Regions from separate parts of the Homo sapiens genome. Here region 1 is linked to region 2. The links come from fine-mapping of genetic effects on gene expression. A gene starts in region 2. The other region holds a variant in brackets. All regions are shown on one strand. Distances are from middle to middle.

Region 1 (8,339 bases), 270 kb before region 2:
ATACTAGAAGACCTCACTCAGAATAAGGAGAGAATGAACCACTGAAATGACAAGAATGCGGCTAGCTTCCCCATCCTTTGATGCTCATAAATCAGTGAGGAATAAGCCATGGCTTTCTGTTAGACATTTTAAATCAATGTCAGCCTCTAATTTAAAAAGTGAGAAGAAAATGTAGTCTTCTGTTATTAACCCTTAGTACTCTAATAAAAATAATATTCATAATAATAATAAAAAACTTGCCAAGTGCCAGTCCTGAATCCATTGATGGGCAGTTGCACTACGTAAAATCATATGACTTAGATCAGTTTTCAACAACTTTGCCTCTATGGAGGGTGCTTCCATAGAGCATCCACCTCAGTTCTGGGGAAAAACAGTATCAAGACCTTTCTGCCATGATTGTAACAAGAGCTTCGTTTCCTCTGGCTGTGTTTTGAGAGTTACCTCTCCTTTCTCTTCCTTTTCCCCCTAACACTGTCACTCACACATCTCTCCTGATTCCCACTACATTCTTGTTTCTCTCAGGCCCTGCTGACAGGCTTGCCTGCCTGCTTTAACCTATTTAACCAGACAGTAAGAATAAGAAAACTATAGCTGCTTACAGGCAAATTCCAATTCTAGATTAGAGGAGATTTCATACAACTTGCAAATGTAGGAGTTCAAGTGCCAGGCAGAAGTATAGGCTGGGATCTCACATCTTGAGTCATTCATTTGGGGAAAATTTATTCCCGATTCTTTGACTTCATTTTAGCTCCTTATCTCCATGGGCTTTTTTTTTTTTTTTTTTTTCTCATATTGAATTATTCTGTTTTGGTGGCTGAAATAGTACTTTTTAGCAAGAGTGGGTTGGAACCCTGAAACTCTATAAAAAGGACTAAGTGTGCTGATTTGTGTGTTTCTCTCTAAGGCTCCTTAAACTTCATTGTTTTAAAATGTAGAAATTAAATTAAAAGAGAAATTTCCTGTCAGATAACTAATCCTAAAAATTAAAATATTGTCATTTGATTATTGTTTTAGTCTCCCATTTGCCTTTTAACCTAATGGGTTTAGTAAACCAATTTCCTTTATACATTTCACTCAGTCGCATCATGAGTGACATATTATTTTGCTAATGCTTTAGGACACTAATGTAGAGGAGAATGTGTTCTAGTCACATGGTTAGCACACTAACATAAAAGACTAATTTCTAGGCCCATCGGTGGCTCTCATTCACCAGAAAGCCACATCCTGGTGGCGGAGGTGCTGGCCTGGGAACCAGTTCCCAGGAGCTCAAAAATGAGAGCTGCTTCAAGTTGCTCCTAACTCCTTCCTAGCATCTACTGCTATATCTGGATTTTCAGAGTTGGTGAGCAAAACCAATAATTTTTCCAGAAGAAAATGGAGTGTAAATGTAGTCATCTCTATTTGAAAGTTTTTGATACTTACAACCCATAACCACTATTGAACATGTCACGTTTTTTCTTATGCTTTCTTGAGTTTTGTTTTACTTTAATGCCCCACAGATCCTGAGCTCGGGCTGGGAGTTGTGGTTGGTGGTACGAGTGTGCCTAGGAGGGGTGGAATTCTTTAAACTCAGACCTCTGGGAACTTCTGCCCCAGCAACAGCACTAGTGAGAGGAAAAGCTAATGTAGTCATTGTAGGTCATACTTGAAGATATTTATGGAACTTCACGTGCTATCTATAGGAGTTCTTCAGGCCTGGGGTCAAAAGTAGCAGAATAAGCAACATTCTGCAGCAGGAGCTGCTACTTTTTATAGGAATGAGAGAATATATAGTAAAATCTAAGATCTCAACTTTCAGAGGTAGAGGATTGATTTTAGTCCTCCTTCAGTCACTCAACTACAAGTCCCAGAGTTCTTTTTATATGAAAAAATAGAAAATGAAAGCACCATTTAACCCAAGATATTTCCCAAAAGAACATTAGAAGCCAGCATGTCACTCAATCTTGTTTTTGTAAGCTCCTGAAGTAAATAAATTAGTCTTGAGTGTCTCTACATTGCACCAAGAAGATCTGAAATAAAATTAGATTAGTAGCTTTGAGCAAAAAGGACATTTATTTCTCCTTTTCCTCTCTCTTTCTCAAACTCACAGGTATGTGAAATCATATTTCATATTGTGGGTTTGAAGTATAAACAAGAAAGCCAGAGTCAGAGAACCAAAATAAACCAACCACCAATCTATTTTCCAGTCTCAGCCCTTCCATTTTTCTGGTAGAGGTCTGAAATTAATCTTGTTTCCAGAAGTTGGGTATGTGCTGTGGAGCTCCTTCAAGCCACAGCTGTGCCTCCATCACATGTAAACACCATTGGATTCCACATTGCTTCCTAATTTGGCCACTGGCACTGTGGTCCACACTTGAACCTTAGCTCCATTGGTTGAACCATAACAACCTGACATTTCCTCTTCCTGGGAGGTTAGACTCCCCTAATTGCTGCTTCACCTAGTTCACCGCCTCCCCGTCCTAGTGCTGACTCTACTGCCCAAATATATGGCCCCGATCTCCTTCACACTGTGAACCACACTAGGCTTGGCTGGATCACCTTAGGGTATGGGCTGGCCAGCCCTACCTGCCCCCACCTCACTCCCTTCTCCCCACCAGCTCTCCATTAAGGTCCCAGTATCTATTTATCTTTCAGTGGATACTGAGCACCTACTCTGTTCTAGTTACTGTGCCAGGCACTGGAGTCGCAACATTGAATTAGGCAGCATTCTGCCCTCAAGGAACAAACTAATGGAAAAGGCAGCAAATTAAAGATGATAAAGATTGCTGTGACAAAGGAATGAACTCTGACCCAATGTCCTCCTTCCGCTCATCTTTGAGCAGAGGGGAAATGGCCTTCAATTCTTGCATATGTACTAAGTAAACTCAGCTTTTTATGAAATTATCAATTCAGCTCAGTTGACTGTGAAAATATATAATTCATTTTTTAATGAACAACACGGAATAGTTGAGTATTGCCCAAGGATTATAATCTCAAAATCGCTGCTGGCCATACTCCCAAAAGCCTGGTGAAAGCATATTTGTGGAGGATTGCCTGAAGGAAGTGCAGATCAGCTTGGTCTGCTTTACAGAACTATTATAAACTGCTGAATCCTCCTGGGATCCCCAAAGCCCACCCATCAGACCCTTCGAGGGCCTCCTTTAAACCTCTTAGTGGTGGGACTCTAGGGCTGCATGAAGCACAGTTTGCTCTGGGGAGCTTAAAACTTAGCTGAGGGTAGGTACTGCTCTCTTCCTGAAATGCCCTCGTCTTTGGTATTCATTCAACACTTTCTCACTATCTCCTTCCTATCTCTCTGGCTTCTTCTTTTAGCCAGTTTTGCAGATTACTTTCTCTGATAATCCAAAACAGAACTCCTTATCTTCTCCCACAAAACTTGTCCCTGCTTTTAAGCTCCTACATGCCTCAGCCTCTGCCCTCCTCTGCAGGTTCCTCCAAGCCTCCACCTCACTGCTCTCCTTTTGTGCCCCATGCTGCAGCCAGTCTGGACATATTTC[A/C]TGTCCTTAGATTCAGCCTATTTGCATTTACCTCCTCACCTTTACACATGATGTTCCCTCTGCCCAAAATGCTTAGACACGTGAGCACACACACCTACATGCACACATCTTACCCTCAGTTAGTTCATCTTCTAGATGCCTCTTCTTCCAAGAAGTCTTCCCTCACTCTACCTCCATTCCCTCCAACTATGCAATACCAGAATACTTCGGACTACTCACTTTATTGTAATTGTCATATATTCTGTTAAGTGCCTGTTACAAAATGAAGTGATTTTTGTTGTTGTTGTTGTTGTTGTTGAGATGGCATCTCTCTCTGTCTCCCAGGCTGGAGTGCAGTGGTGCAGTCTCAGCTCACTGCAACCTCCACATCACAGGCTCAAGCATTTCTCTTTCCTCAGCCTCCCAAGTAGCTGGGATTACAGACACTCACCACCATGCCTGGCTAATTTTTGTATTTTTAGTAGAGGCGGGGTTTCACCATGTTGGCCAGGCTGGTCTCGAACTCCTGACCTCAGGTGATCCACCCTTCTCAGCCTCCCAAAGTGCTGGAATCACAGGCGTGAGCCACCATGACCGGACAAAATGAAGTAATTAAATTGCTCTTCTAAAAAATAAATTTCATTGAATTCATGGGTGCTCTGAGAAACATCCCCAAGAAACACATTGTGAGTGCTCTGTGAGGATGTTATTCATCATTTCTCTAGAGCCTTCTTCACGTGGACCTGGGGTGTGGGTGATTCTTTCTGCTCTTCAATTTACTAATAGTCATACTTCTCCTAAGAACAGGATTGTTTTAATTTAGATACCTTTTCCATTGTGTAGGAATTATATAACCATCGTCACATTGGCTGCTAGAAATCTGAAAACTAAATCGTGTCTCACTCTTTATGGGATGAATTTTATGAACTTGTCTCATTTATTTTTCTCATCTTTCATATCTACTTTCAAGTTATGCTAACTTGCTATGTGTTATGGGTACATAACAGTAAGTGGACATAAATCTTTTCCGGAATAAAGGAATAACTAATCGAATAAACAAAATGATAGAGGAGTATAAGGTTCAACAGAGAAAAGTAGCCTCTAAATGGTGGAAGGGTGTACCAAACGGTACTCCTTAATTTGTAAGTCACTTAAACCCCAAACTGGCTTAAATGACAACAAAATATTAAATTAACTGAAAAGTTTAGTGGTAGTTCATTTTCAGGTAGAGTTTGATCCAGGAGCTCAAATCATGCCATCAGATCCTGTTCTCTCACCATCTCTCCCTTCTATCCTCCTTCATGCTTGCTCAATGCTCAGGCTTCCTGTGGTGACAAAATAGTTTCTGGAATCTAGACCTTTGCATTCCAAGATGTATGTTTAAAAGACAGAAGAACAAGAGAATATCTCCTGTCTATGAATAAAAAATCCATAAGGATAGATAGAGACTTTGGATATTTGGTTTACTGTTGAATTCCCAGCAAGGCAGTGGCTGGTATATAAGTGATCAATAAATACTTGTTGAAGTTGTTGTTATGGCATCACTAAAAGCTCATGCACAAATCCCAATACTTGACCTGGGTCACATGCCCATCCCTGAACTAATCTTTTGGTCAGGGGATCCAGTGCTCTAATTTTCCAGGTCTGGGTCACCTGATCCTAACACCAAAACCAGGGATGAGTCTCCAACTAATCCATGTGCACTGACAGTGGGAGATGATGGTTCCTCAAGGGAAATTGGGGGCATTACAAAGAAGGAGAAACAAGCTTGGCAGACAAAACAATAAATAATGCACATCAATGGACTACCAAGAAGGTGATGTTTGAGTCGAATGGTAAAGGATAAGCAGGAGTTAGCTAATAAAGAGGGCAATTTTCAGTGGGTAACATTCTAGGTATTTTCAAAGCACAGAGTCATAAAACAGCCTGATGCTTTTGAAGAACTGTAAATAGCTTAATATGGTTAGAGCAAACAAGGGTGGAGAGTAGTAAAAAAAAAATAAGCCAGAGAGATAGGCATAGTGCAAATATAAAAGACCTTTAGAACTAATCCAAGGAGTGTGCACTCTATCCTGAAAGCCCTGAAGAGCATAAGTAGGATTTGCAGCCCGGGAGCACGCCTGACAGCCAGGCCCTTGCAGATCATTATAGGGTCAACACTGATTCACCCTGCAAACACTGGTTGGGGCTGGGTCTGCAAGTCAAAGAAAGGAGTCCCAGATGTGGATGAACAAGAGACACAGGGAGCAGACGCCAAGCAAATCCTAGGAATCAAACAGACCTGGGAATCAAACAAAGACTGCCAACACTGTCTGATTGTTGCTTAATTCTCAAGCTTGTGGCCCACACTGTCACGAATTCTTCATCTAAATATGAAAATCCTCTTTAGTGAGCCACGACACATTCAGAGCATGACATGGTTGGGTATTGTACTAGTTTGCTGGGGCTACCATAATAAAGTACCACAAACTGGGTGGCTGAAACAACTGAAATTTATTGTCTTACAGTTGTGCAGGTGGAAAGTCTGAGATCAAGGTGTGGGCAGGGTTGGTTCCTTCTGAGAGCTGTGAGGAAGAATCTGTTCCGTGCCTCTCTCCTGGCTTCTGGTAATTTGCTGGCAATCAATGATGTTCCTTGGCTTGCAGAAGCATCACCCTGATCTCCGCCTTCACCTCTATGTGGTATTCTCCCTGTGTGCATGTCTGTCTCCAAATTCTGCTCCCCACCTCTTTTTGAGACACGGTCTCGCTGTATTGCCCAGGCTAGAGTGCAGGGACACCATAATGGCTCACCACAGCCTCGATGTCCTGGGCTCAAGTGATTGTCCTGCCTCAGCCTTCCAGTAGCTGGGAACATAGGTGCATGCCCATGCCACCACACCTGGCGATTTCTTTCTTTTTTTTCCTTTTTTTTTTTTTTGGAGAGACAAGATCTCCCTGTGTTGCCTGTTGCCCAGGCTCATCTCAAACTCCTGGGCTTAAGTGACTCTCCCACCTCAGCCTCCCAAAGTGCTGGGAGTATAGGCATGAGTCACTATGCCTGCCCAAGTTTCCCCTTTTTATAAGGATAAAAATCATATTGGATTAGGACTGAACTTAGTGACCTCATGTTAACTTGATTAACTCTGCAAAGACCTTATCTCCAAATAAGGTTGCATTCTGAGGTACTGCAGTTAAGGACTTCAACATGAAGTTTTGGAGGACACAATTCAACACACAAAAATGTTATTTTTAAAAAGAAGTTGCAGCCAGGCTCAGTGGCTCATGCCTGTAATCCTAGCACTTTGGGAGGCCAAGGCAGGTGGATCACTTGAGGTCAGGAGTTCAAGACCAGCCTGGCCAACATGGCGAAACCCCGTCTGTACTAAAAATACAAAAATTAGCTGGGTGTGATGGCATGCACCTGTAGTCCCAGCTACTCGGGCAGCTGAGGCAGGAGAATTGCATGAACCCTGGGGTCAGAGTTTGCAGTGAGCCAAGATCGTGCCATTTCACGCCAGCCTGGGCGAAGAGCAAGACTCCATCTCAAATAAATAAATAAAATAAAAAGAAGTTACTTAGCCACGTACGGTAGTGCATGCCTGTAGTCTCAGCTACTCGGGAGGCTGTGGCGGGAGGATCACTTGAGCCCAGGAGTTTGAGGCTGAAGTGAGCTGTGATCACCACTGCACTCCAGACTGGGTGACAGATCAAGGGTGTCTCAAAAAAGAAAAGTAGACATTCTCTAAGTGAATTGATTTCTTACAAAAGGTATGACATCATGTTGCTTTGTAAAGACAAAGAAAATAACACCATTAATAAAACAGACTCAGAAAAAAGAAAAAGAGACCCAGGAGCAATTCAAGAGTTCACAATGAAGAATGCTTTTTCAGATTAAATAAAAAACAGTTCTTTTCTACTTGTGGGATTTTGCATGGAGGCTGCTATAGAGAAGGGTGCTTGTGAGAAGATGCCTTATAAAATGAAATACAAACGTTCCAGTGATTTCTGCAGCATTCAATCTTCCCAACAGTTCCCTGAGCTGAATATTATTACCCTCACTTACCAATGAGAAACTAAGCCTGAGAGAGGTTAACTACATTACCCCAGGCTACATTTGGTAAGCGGTGGGGCTGAAATTTGAAATCAGACTGTTGTGACCTCAGACCATCACATGCACTGGCCGGAGTAATTTTATGAGTCCTGGTTGAAGGCCAAGTATTCACCTTTGCAATGGATCCAAAAGATGCTGCCCAGCACACAGTCCAAAGAGGCAGTAATCCTCCAGAGGGAATGACCATGTATCATCCACAGTGCTCAGGGTGTCTGCTCCACATAATAGATGCTCAACAAACAAAACCTTTGTGAAGTCACTGTACAGCAATAAGATTTATTTCACCTATGGAGGTAGTGAAATTTTCTTTGGCAGTTCTGGAGGTTAGATAGAACCTAAAAGTTGATAGCTTAATAGAAGCATTTGTAACCCCAGCAAGATAAACAGACACAACTTCAAAGGCCAATTCCAATAAAATGCTGAGGGGCAAGAAAACCTGGTTTGTTCTTTCCCAGATTCTCGTCACCTGAGGTCAGGAGTTCGAGACCAGCCTGGCCAACATGGGGAAACTGTCTCTACTAAAAATACAAAAATTACCTGGGCGCGGTGGCAGGTGCCTGTAATCCCAGCTACTCGGGAGGTTGAGGAAGGAGAATCGCTTCAACACGGGGGCGGGGCGGAGGTTGCAGTGAGCGGAGATCGCGCCACTGCACTCCAGCCTGTGTGACAAGAGCGAAACTCCGTCTCAAAAAAAAAAAAAAAAAAAAAAAAAAAAAAAAACAACGCTAGCAAGTGGAATTATTTCAAAAGCAACAGCCTTGTTTCCTGAGT
Region 2 (8,283 bases):
CTTATTTGTGACACAGATTCCTTTGCTCACGTTTTCTTGCTGACCTTCTCCCCACTATCACCCTGTTCTCCTGCCGCATTCCCCTTGCTGAGACAGTGCAAATAGTAAACAATAAATACTGAGGGAACTCACAGACTGGTGCCGGTGCAGGTCCTCCATATGCTAAGTGTTGGTCTCCTGGGCCCACTGTTCTTTCTCTATACTTTGTCTCTGTGTCTTATTTCTTTTCTCAGTCTCTCGTCCCACCTGACGAGAAACACCCACAGGTGTGGAGGGGCAGGCCACCCTTCATCCAGGTATCTGTGGAATTAACTTTCCTGCCCTTCAATGTCACCTTCTTAATGTCACTTATAACAGATCCCCCAATCGTGCTATCTTTAATTAGCACTAATAATCTAAGATACCACATAATGTACTTTTAATACACATTAGTCCCTCACTAGTAATATTTCTACTAGTAGTATTTCTAGTAGTGAGGGTTTAATCTGTATTAAAAGTACACTATATAGTATCTTAGATTATTAATGCTAATAATAATAAAAAGCAGGAATGTCTATTTGTTCACTGATGAATATTAAGCTCCTAGAACAATTTGCACACTGTGCTCAGTATTCAGAGTGAATTAATATTCTAATGTTTCTATTAGAAAATATTTGAAATTCCAGGCCGGGCGCGGTGGCTCACGCTTGTAATCCCAGCACTTTGGGAGGCCGAGGGGGGCGGATCACGAAGTCAGGAGATCGAGACCATACTGGCTAACACGGTGAAACCCCATCTCTACTAAAAATACAAAAACAAAATTAGCCGGGGGCGGTGGTGGGCGCCTGTAGTCCCAGCTACTCGGAAGGCTGAGGCAGGAGAATGGCATGAACCCGGGAGGGGGAGCTTGCAGTGAGCCAAGATCGCGCCACTGCACTCCAGCCTGGGTGACAGAGTGAGACTCCGTCACACACACACACAAAAAAAAAAAAAAATTGAAATTCCAGACAACTAAACATAAATTTTAGAACATAATTAGTTAAGGTCATTGAAAAAAAAAAATTAACTGATGCTGGGGCTGGGTGCGGTGGCTCATGCCCGTAATCCCACCATTTTGGGAGGCTGAGCCTGGCGGATCATTTGAGGTTGAGAGTTCAAGATCAGTCTGGCCAACATAGTAATACCCCGTCTCCACTTAAAAAATATACAAAAATTAACCAGGCATGGTGGGACATGCCTGTAATTCCAGCTACTCAGGAAGTTGAGGCAGGAGAATCCCTTGAACCTGGGAGATGGAGGTTGCAGTGAGCCATGATCGTGCCACTGCACTCCAGCCTGGGCAACAGAGCAAGACACCGTCTCAAAAAATAAAAAAATAAAAAGTACTGCATTCTCTACTAGTTTCACAAGTCACTTGACTTTCCAACGCTTTAAGGATACTTCTTTTATAAGCCCGAATGTACTGCACTAAACTTAGTAGGAGATCCCTGATTGTCCATTATAATTGATCAATTAACTGAAATTACACAAGTAAACAAAAATGCCAGATGTCTGCCTACATATAATATTTATAAATCTGAATTTTATTTCATATATGGATGGAAGTTAAGGCCTTAACCGGTCAGCCTCCTTCCAGTGTTTTACCCTCCATTTTACCCTAAAAAAGGATAATCAACTGTTAACGCATATTCATAATGTGAAGTTTCCAGGATCAAGAATCCAAGAGGTTTTTTATTAACCATAATAAATCCAAACTTCTATCTTCCATATGCCTCCTTCTATTATATCTAACCTTCTATTCTCTCCAAAAGCATATAATTATGCCTGTTTCCTTACTGTGCCACAAACAGACTAACACATACTACCACGGAGCTGTTTATTTTCCAAACGGGATATCTTTTTCCATTCTCTCATTCAACATCCAACGGTCCATCAAGGCCCAACTCAAAACCTATTATTCTCCACAAAGCCCATTATATAAACCCTACAAGACTTAAAACAGATTCCAAACTAGTGACTGATAGGCCATATGAGACTTGTGTTTGACCCACTTTTTTTTTTTTAATAAAATTCTATTCCACTGACAACATTTAAAAACTGGGAGAGGATGCTTTTTAAAAAATGGTATTTCCAACTTTTTTTGAAAAAATTAGATGTTCTGGCAAAACTGGGATCATATTCTCACATAGCCACAATCAGCTGTAGCTGAGTGGCAGGTGACCCCTTCTAAGGGTGAAGTATTCATTAACGTTAACTGCCTGATCTCTGCAGCATACCTTCAGCACCTGCAATCATTCAAGAAATAACTGACTGTCTTATGTGCCAAGAACTGTATTAGCTACTGGAGTTACAAAGATAAACGAGACAAACACAGTCCCTCACCGACAGTCTCGCTTAGTAGGGATGGCAAAGAAGCAATTAAGATACATGTGATAAATGCCGTGAGGGAAGTGCAGGACAGCTAAGAGTACATAGCAAAAATACCTAACTCTATGGAAGTTAGGGTATACCCCTCAAGTAAAGTGACAGCTAAACTCAGATCTTTAATAGAAGTTATCCAGAAAAAGATAGGAGGAAACAGGGAGCTCAAATGTCCCAGAGAGAGAAAAGAGCCTTTGTGAAGATACTGAGGGAAGAAAGTATTCTGAGGAATTGAAATCCGTTCAACATGGCTACAGCCATGCCCAACCTTTAAATGCAGGGTCAGAGAAAGGGCTCAACTGAAATGGCTGGCAGGAAAATCTACGTGTTATCAATAGTTAAGGTTAGGAGATGAAGGAGAATTTCACTAAAGAAGTTGAATATGTAAAATAGTTTAAGCAGGAAATAGAGGTTTCAGAAAGCACAGATGGGGTGTTGAGGGGTTAAATGGGGAAGAAACGAAGAAGCAGTGATAGCCTAAGTCGAAAGAAAGCACAAAGCAGCATGGAAATGAGACTATAGCACAGAAGACCACAGAAGCTTACATCTTGGGCGGTAACCAAGGATAACAGAGATGTAAAGCATGGTAAGTTTGGCTGGCCACAAGTATGCCTAGAGAATTAGTGCCAGCGGTCTCCTGTCGGCCACGGAGGCATTCAGGCCTCTCAAAATTCAGCTGCGCCCTGGATGGATTGTACTTCCGTCTCTATAGAAGACATCGGCTTCACTCTGGATTGATTGTGCAGGCTCCAGGAGAGGCTGTGGGTTCCAGGCTGCTGGAACGCAGGCTCCCAGGGAGTGGTTAGAGGCCTGGTCTGTATGTGCTGGTAGGCAGAAGTATAAATTACCTTGCATTACGTTCTGATTTTTCTGTAGGAATGGTGGGCATGTTATGGCCTCTTAGAGAAAAAGCAGTGCGTAGCCATTATAGATTTACAGGAAGAGAAAAGGTGCCAAGAAGATCAACACTTGTCCATACCCATACTAAAGATGAGTCATTCTGTGAATCCAACTCTCCCCAAGTTGACCTCGTCTCCCCAACTAGACTGAGATCTTCACCAGAAAACAAAACAAAACAAAACATAAAAGGTCTGTTTATTTTGTAGTTCCCAAAGTGCCTAATAGCTGGGTACCGTGAACACCTTCAGTAAAATTACCGACTTCCTGACTCCTCTCGGGTCACTGAAGTTACCTAGCTCAGTCGTCTTCTTGCATATTAAGGCGCTACAGAGAGGCGAACCCCTATCTTAGACTCAATACTTCCCTTTATTCCAAACTCCACTGCGTCTCTCCACCCTCAACCGCATGGGCAGAATTGTCACACAATTCAAAGGCAGGAGAATCCAGGACCCGACACAGAAAACTCCCGCCCACTCCCCCCCGTTTAGCAGCCCGCACACGCTCTGCATCCATCTCTGGGAAAGGTAAAAAGCGCTCACCGACTCTGGCCCTCCGGGAGACCCCGTAAATGCAGCCGTCCGCTCGCCGCCGTTATCCCAGGTAGGTACTTCCGGCGCGCGCAATGACGTTAGCGAAGCGCTCGCCTCTGGGCCCGCCTTCGGGGCCCGGATCTCAAACAGTCGGGAAGAAGCACCGTGGCTGCTATTATCTGCTCTCCGCGCCTGACCCCTCCCAGGACTCGTGATGCCAAGGCCGCTGCGAGCGGCTACGAAGAGTCGGGGTTGAGCCCCAGCTGAGCCGAGGGCTCGCACTCTTCTGGTCTCCCAGGCCCAACCCACCTGAAGGTAAACGCCTCCTCAGCTGCGGCCTTCTCTCCTGCGGGGCCCCCTCCCCAGACTCGGCTGCCAAAACGCTCTGCCCCTCTCTCCCGCCACCCTTTTTATTCCAGGACCTTAACCTCTGCCTGCCTTCGCGGCTCTCAGCAGAACGTGTAACGCATAGTTTCAAATGAGAAACTTAAAAAGCGACGTATCTATGTTGAGTTCCTGAAGTTTTCTAAATAATTCCCCCATAACACCAAACATGAGGCAGTTTTCTCATTCCTTCACGAATTGGCATGCCATAGAGTCAGTATTTTTCCATTTGTGATGGTTGATCTTCCCATCTCAAATACACACCGCACGCTCTTTTTAAATCAGAAATTTGAATTTGGTTGAGCCTGATATTTTCACGGTAATTTGCTGACTTTGTAAGATAAGATGTGAAAATTACTGATTACATTTGTAAACTTTATATACATATACACACATACCTACAGGTCTGTCTCTTCGAGGCACCAAGCCTATTTATATAATGTATCATTTCATAATTTGGCAATAAGCAAAATTAGCGTTTCGAAAGAAGTTTATATTGTCGATACATAAAGCTTAAATTTACTCCTTAACATCATACTAAAAGGGGAAAAGAAAATTTTCCTCTTAACACACCACTCCAGAGAAAAAAAATATTAAGACAAGCAAAAAAGGTACCCAGCCATAGTACAGGCATGCACAGCATAACAACTTTTTGATTAACAACAAACCACATATACCACAGTGGTCTCCTAAGAGTGTAATACATTGTACCATATTTTTAGTGTACGTTTTCTGTGTTTAGCTATGTAAATATTTACCATTGTGTTTCAACTGTCTACATTATTCACTACATTAACATGCTGTACAGGTTGTAGCCTAGGAGCAATAGGCTAGACCATCTAGGTTTGTCTCAGTACACCCTGTGATGTCTGCACTGTGAAATCACGTAACACTCAGAACATACCTCCTTCATTAAGCATAGCATGACTGTGTATTAGCAAAAATCAGTGGCTAAGGTTCTGTCTGAGTCCCCATGCTCTTTCTGACCTGGGTGAGCAAGGTGCAGGTAATGTACATATACAGTACATATTCAATAGAGCATTTTTTTTGCTCATGGTCTGAGTGGAAGTTAGGAGTAGCCTCAGGGTTTTTCCTTCATCTGTTCAAAACCCGTCTCCCTACCCATACAATCTGGCACTGAAAGTGTTGGTATAAAGAATACTTGAAAGAAGAAGAACCAAAAAAGAATTTTTTTTAAGTGGTGACTGGGAAAAAGGAATTCCTTAATTCAGCCTGCTGGAGTCATTGTTCCTAACTTCCTAAAATGTAAGGAAGGTGTACACATCTGGCATAATTAAATCGGTGATTGTTAATACTTTATTGGTTTTTGTTTTTTGTTTTTTTCCAAATAATACCCAGACTGGTCTGATGTATTGGTTTTATTTGGAATTAATAATACTTGGTTTAGGCCAGGTGTGGTGATTCATGCCTGTAATCCCAGCACTTTGGGAGGCTGAGGCAGGTGGATCATTTGAGGTCAGGAGTTCAAGACCAGCCTGACCAACATGGTGAAACACTGTCTCTACTAAAAATACAAAATTAGCCAGGCATGGTAGTGGATGCCTATAATCCCAGCTACTCGGGAGGCTGAGGCAGGATAATTGCTTGAACCTGGGAAGCAGAGGTTGCAGTGAGCCGAGATCACGCCATTGCACCCCAGCCTGGGCAACAAGAGGGAAACTCCGTCTCAAACAACAAAAAAAGAATCCTGGTTTAGACTGATTGCTGATAAGTTTGTTTTCACTTTTAGAAATGAGTGGTGGATTGGCTCCAAGTAAGAGCACAGTGTATGTATCCAACTTGCCTTTTTCCCTGACAAACAATGACTTGTACCGGGTAAGTAAATCTTATCGAGTGACTGCTATTTGAGATACAGATAACCTTAAGCAAATAGTTCTCCCTGGCAAATTCTTTTTTCCTTTTTTTTTTTTTCTTTTTTTGAGACAGTCTAATTCTGTCACTGAGGCACGAGGCTGTAGTGCAGTGGCACTATCATGGCTCACTGCAGCCTCCCCGCCCCCTCAGGTGATCCTCCCACCTCATCCTCCCAAGTAGCTGGGAATACAGGTGTGTGCCACCATGCCTCTACAAGCTACCTGGGAGACTGAGGTTGGAAGATTGCTTGAGCCTAGGAGGTCGAGGCGACAGTGAGCCAAGGTCACACCACTGCACTCCAGCCTGGGTGACAGAATGAGACCCTGTCTCAAAAAAAAAAAAGAAAAAAAAATAGAAGCTATATTTATTGAACATTTAAGTCAAATTATGTGTTAGATACTAAGGAGATGCTAAGATGTTAGGTGCTAAGGAGAAAAAATAACGCAGGAAAGGTGGGCTATTGAACGTTAAGTTGGGAATGGAAGTGAAATTTTACATAGGGCGGTCAGAAATGCCATTATTGAGAAGGTGACTTTTGAATAAAGACCTGAAACGAGTAAGAGGCACCTGTGCAAATTCTAGAGGACAAACATTTCAGAAAAAGAGGGGTAATCTTAGGTAAGCCCACTCGAGGTGCCTTATACGACCTATTTACATCATGGTAAGGACTCTGGCTTTCACTCTGCATGAAACAAGAAGCCATTAGTAAGTATTATATAGAAGACTGTACTGGCCTTCAGAACCCAGTGTTGCTAACACTGCTATCCAGTTATTTTACATTCCAGCATTATACAGCTTAATCATAGAACGAAAAAATTCGTTATTATTGGTTGCATATACTAACACATTCTAAAAGACTTTTTATATAATAGGAACTCTTAGTATATGGGTAATGAGCTGGAACTGTAGAAATAAATGAGATTGCATAGGATAAAGTAAAAGTAACAGAAGAGAGAGCCAAGTATAAAGTTCCACCAACATGTTAATGGTGGGCAGAGGAAGAAGACTGATAGAAATGGATTTTTCATTATAAAAGCTTATTTTATGAGGTTTTGTTTTGTTTTTTAAATAAAGCAGTCTAAGGATTTGCCTTCTCAAACAGGGATTGCTTAATAGGAATAACAAGGTAGTGGTGAGGGTAGAATTGGAAAAGTGCTGCTCCATAAGATTGACATTTGAAGCACAGGTGTATCTGGCACTATGATGGAGTTGATAGTTGCCATGGGTATACCTCAGGAACACAGCAGCTGTCCAGTATGTATGCCTTAGATCTACCACATGTGTAGAGTGAGTTTTTTTCTCTGTATTTACTCCATTGTCAAATTTAGAAACAGACAGATACATGTGACTCCAACAACAGTAAGTATATTATTCTAGTAACCAAAAAAAACTTTTTCCTAGGGCCTGTCTTATAGACTGAAGGCTGAAATTATTCATAAACTGTAACAAAGAATTTGGTCAATGTCTGCAACCTAAAAATTTGATGTTTTATGATTTTAAAATAAATTGTAAATATTTGGTCTTTTGTTTCAGATATTTTCCAAGTATGGCAAAGTTGTAAAGTAAGTATTCACATTAAATTTTGTAACTTCATTTAAAAGTTTATCTGAATTTGCTTCTACATTTTTTTAATGACAGATTTTTAAAAATAAAACATGCTTGATATAATAAAGAAAATACTATTAACATTTTTATGACAATTTAGTTGGTTTTCCATGTACATAAACATGTAGACAATTTTTCTTAAAGACTATTACATACATACAATTTTCTTTTCTTTTTTAATTTGACATACCATAAATGTCTTTCCATGTGCTATAAAGATACATCCTCATAGCTAATGGTAAACAAATATTTTGGTTACTAGGAAGTGTGTTATCAAGTATACTATAAGTAACCTACTTTCAAATAAATAGGTGGTTTTTTGTTTTGTTTTTTTTCATATAAATAGTGTAAAAACAAATATTTCAGTGCATCTGACTTGCAGGATGCTATGAGTCTTTTAAATAGAAAACATATTATCTTCCTTCAGAGATAGCTTGGAGATCGTTGGAAAGACTAGAAACATGCAAAAATGGTAATGGATGATAACAGGGCTGAGGGTTAGGAACAATAAAAAGAACTTGAACTTCTCGTATTTCACTGTTTTAAATCAAGCAACTATATTATGGGGCAAAAAAGTAACAGGATACTG

The links. PIP is the estimated chance that this variant, and not a neighbour inherited with it, causes the effect.
Region 1: its variant is fine-mapped to the expression of ZCRB1 in whole blood (TOPMed, PIP above 0.99).

What each region holds. Positions count from the first base shown.
Region 1 is chr12:42,591,252-42,599,590 of GRCh38, reverse strand. No RefSeq gene overlaps it. Among named protein-coding and RNA genes, the nearest start is that of PRICKLE1, 5.7 kb to the right of the region's middle. The variant A/C (reference allele first, on the strand shown) is at 3,498.
Region 2 is chr12:42,321,786-42,330,068 of GRCh38, reverse strand. ZCRB1 (zinc finger CCHC-type and RNA binding motif containing 1) reads left to right here and starts at 3,975. Exons shown (of 8, transcript NM_033114.4): 1 at 3,975-4,145; 2 at 5,965-6,050; 3 at 7,623-7,651. The coding sequence starts at 5,967. PPHLN1 (periphilin 1) reads right to left here and starts at 3,902. Exons shown (of 10, transcript NM_201439.2): 1 at 3,840-3,902. MIR7851 (microRNA 7851) reads left to right here and starts at 6,210; the gene lies at 6,210-6,369. RefSeq lists an enhancer at 4,230-4,279.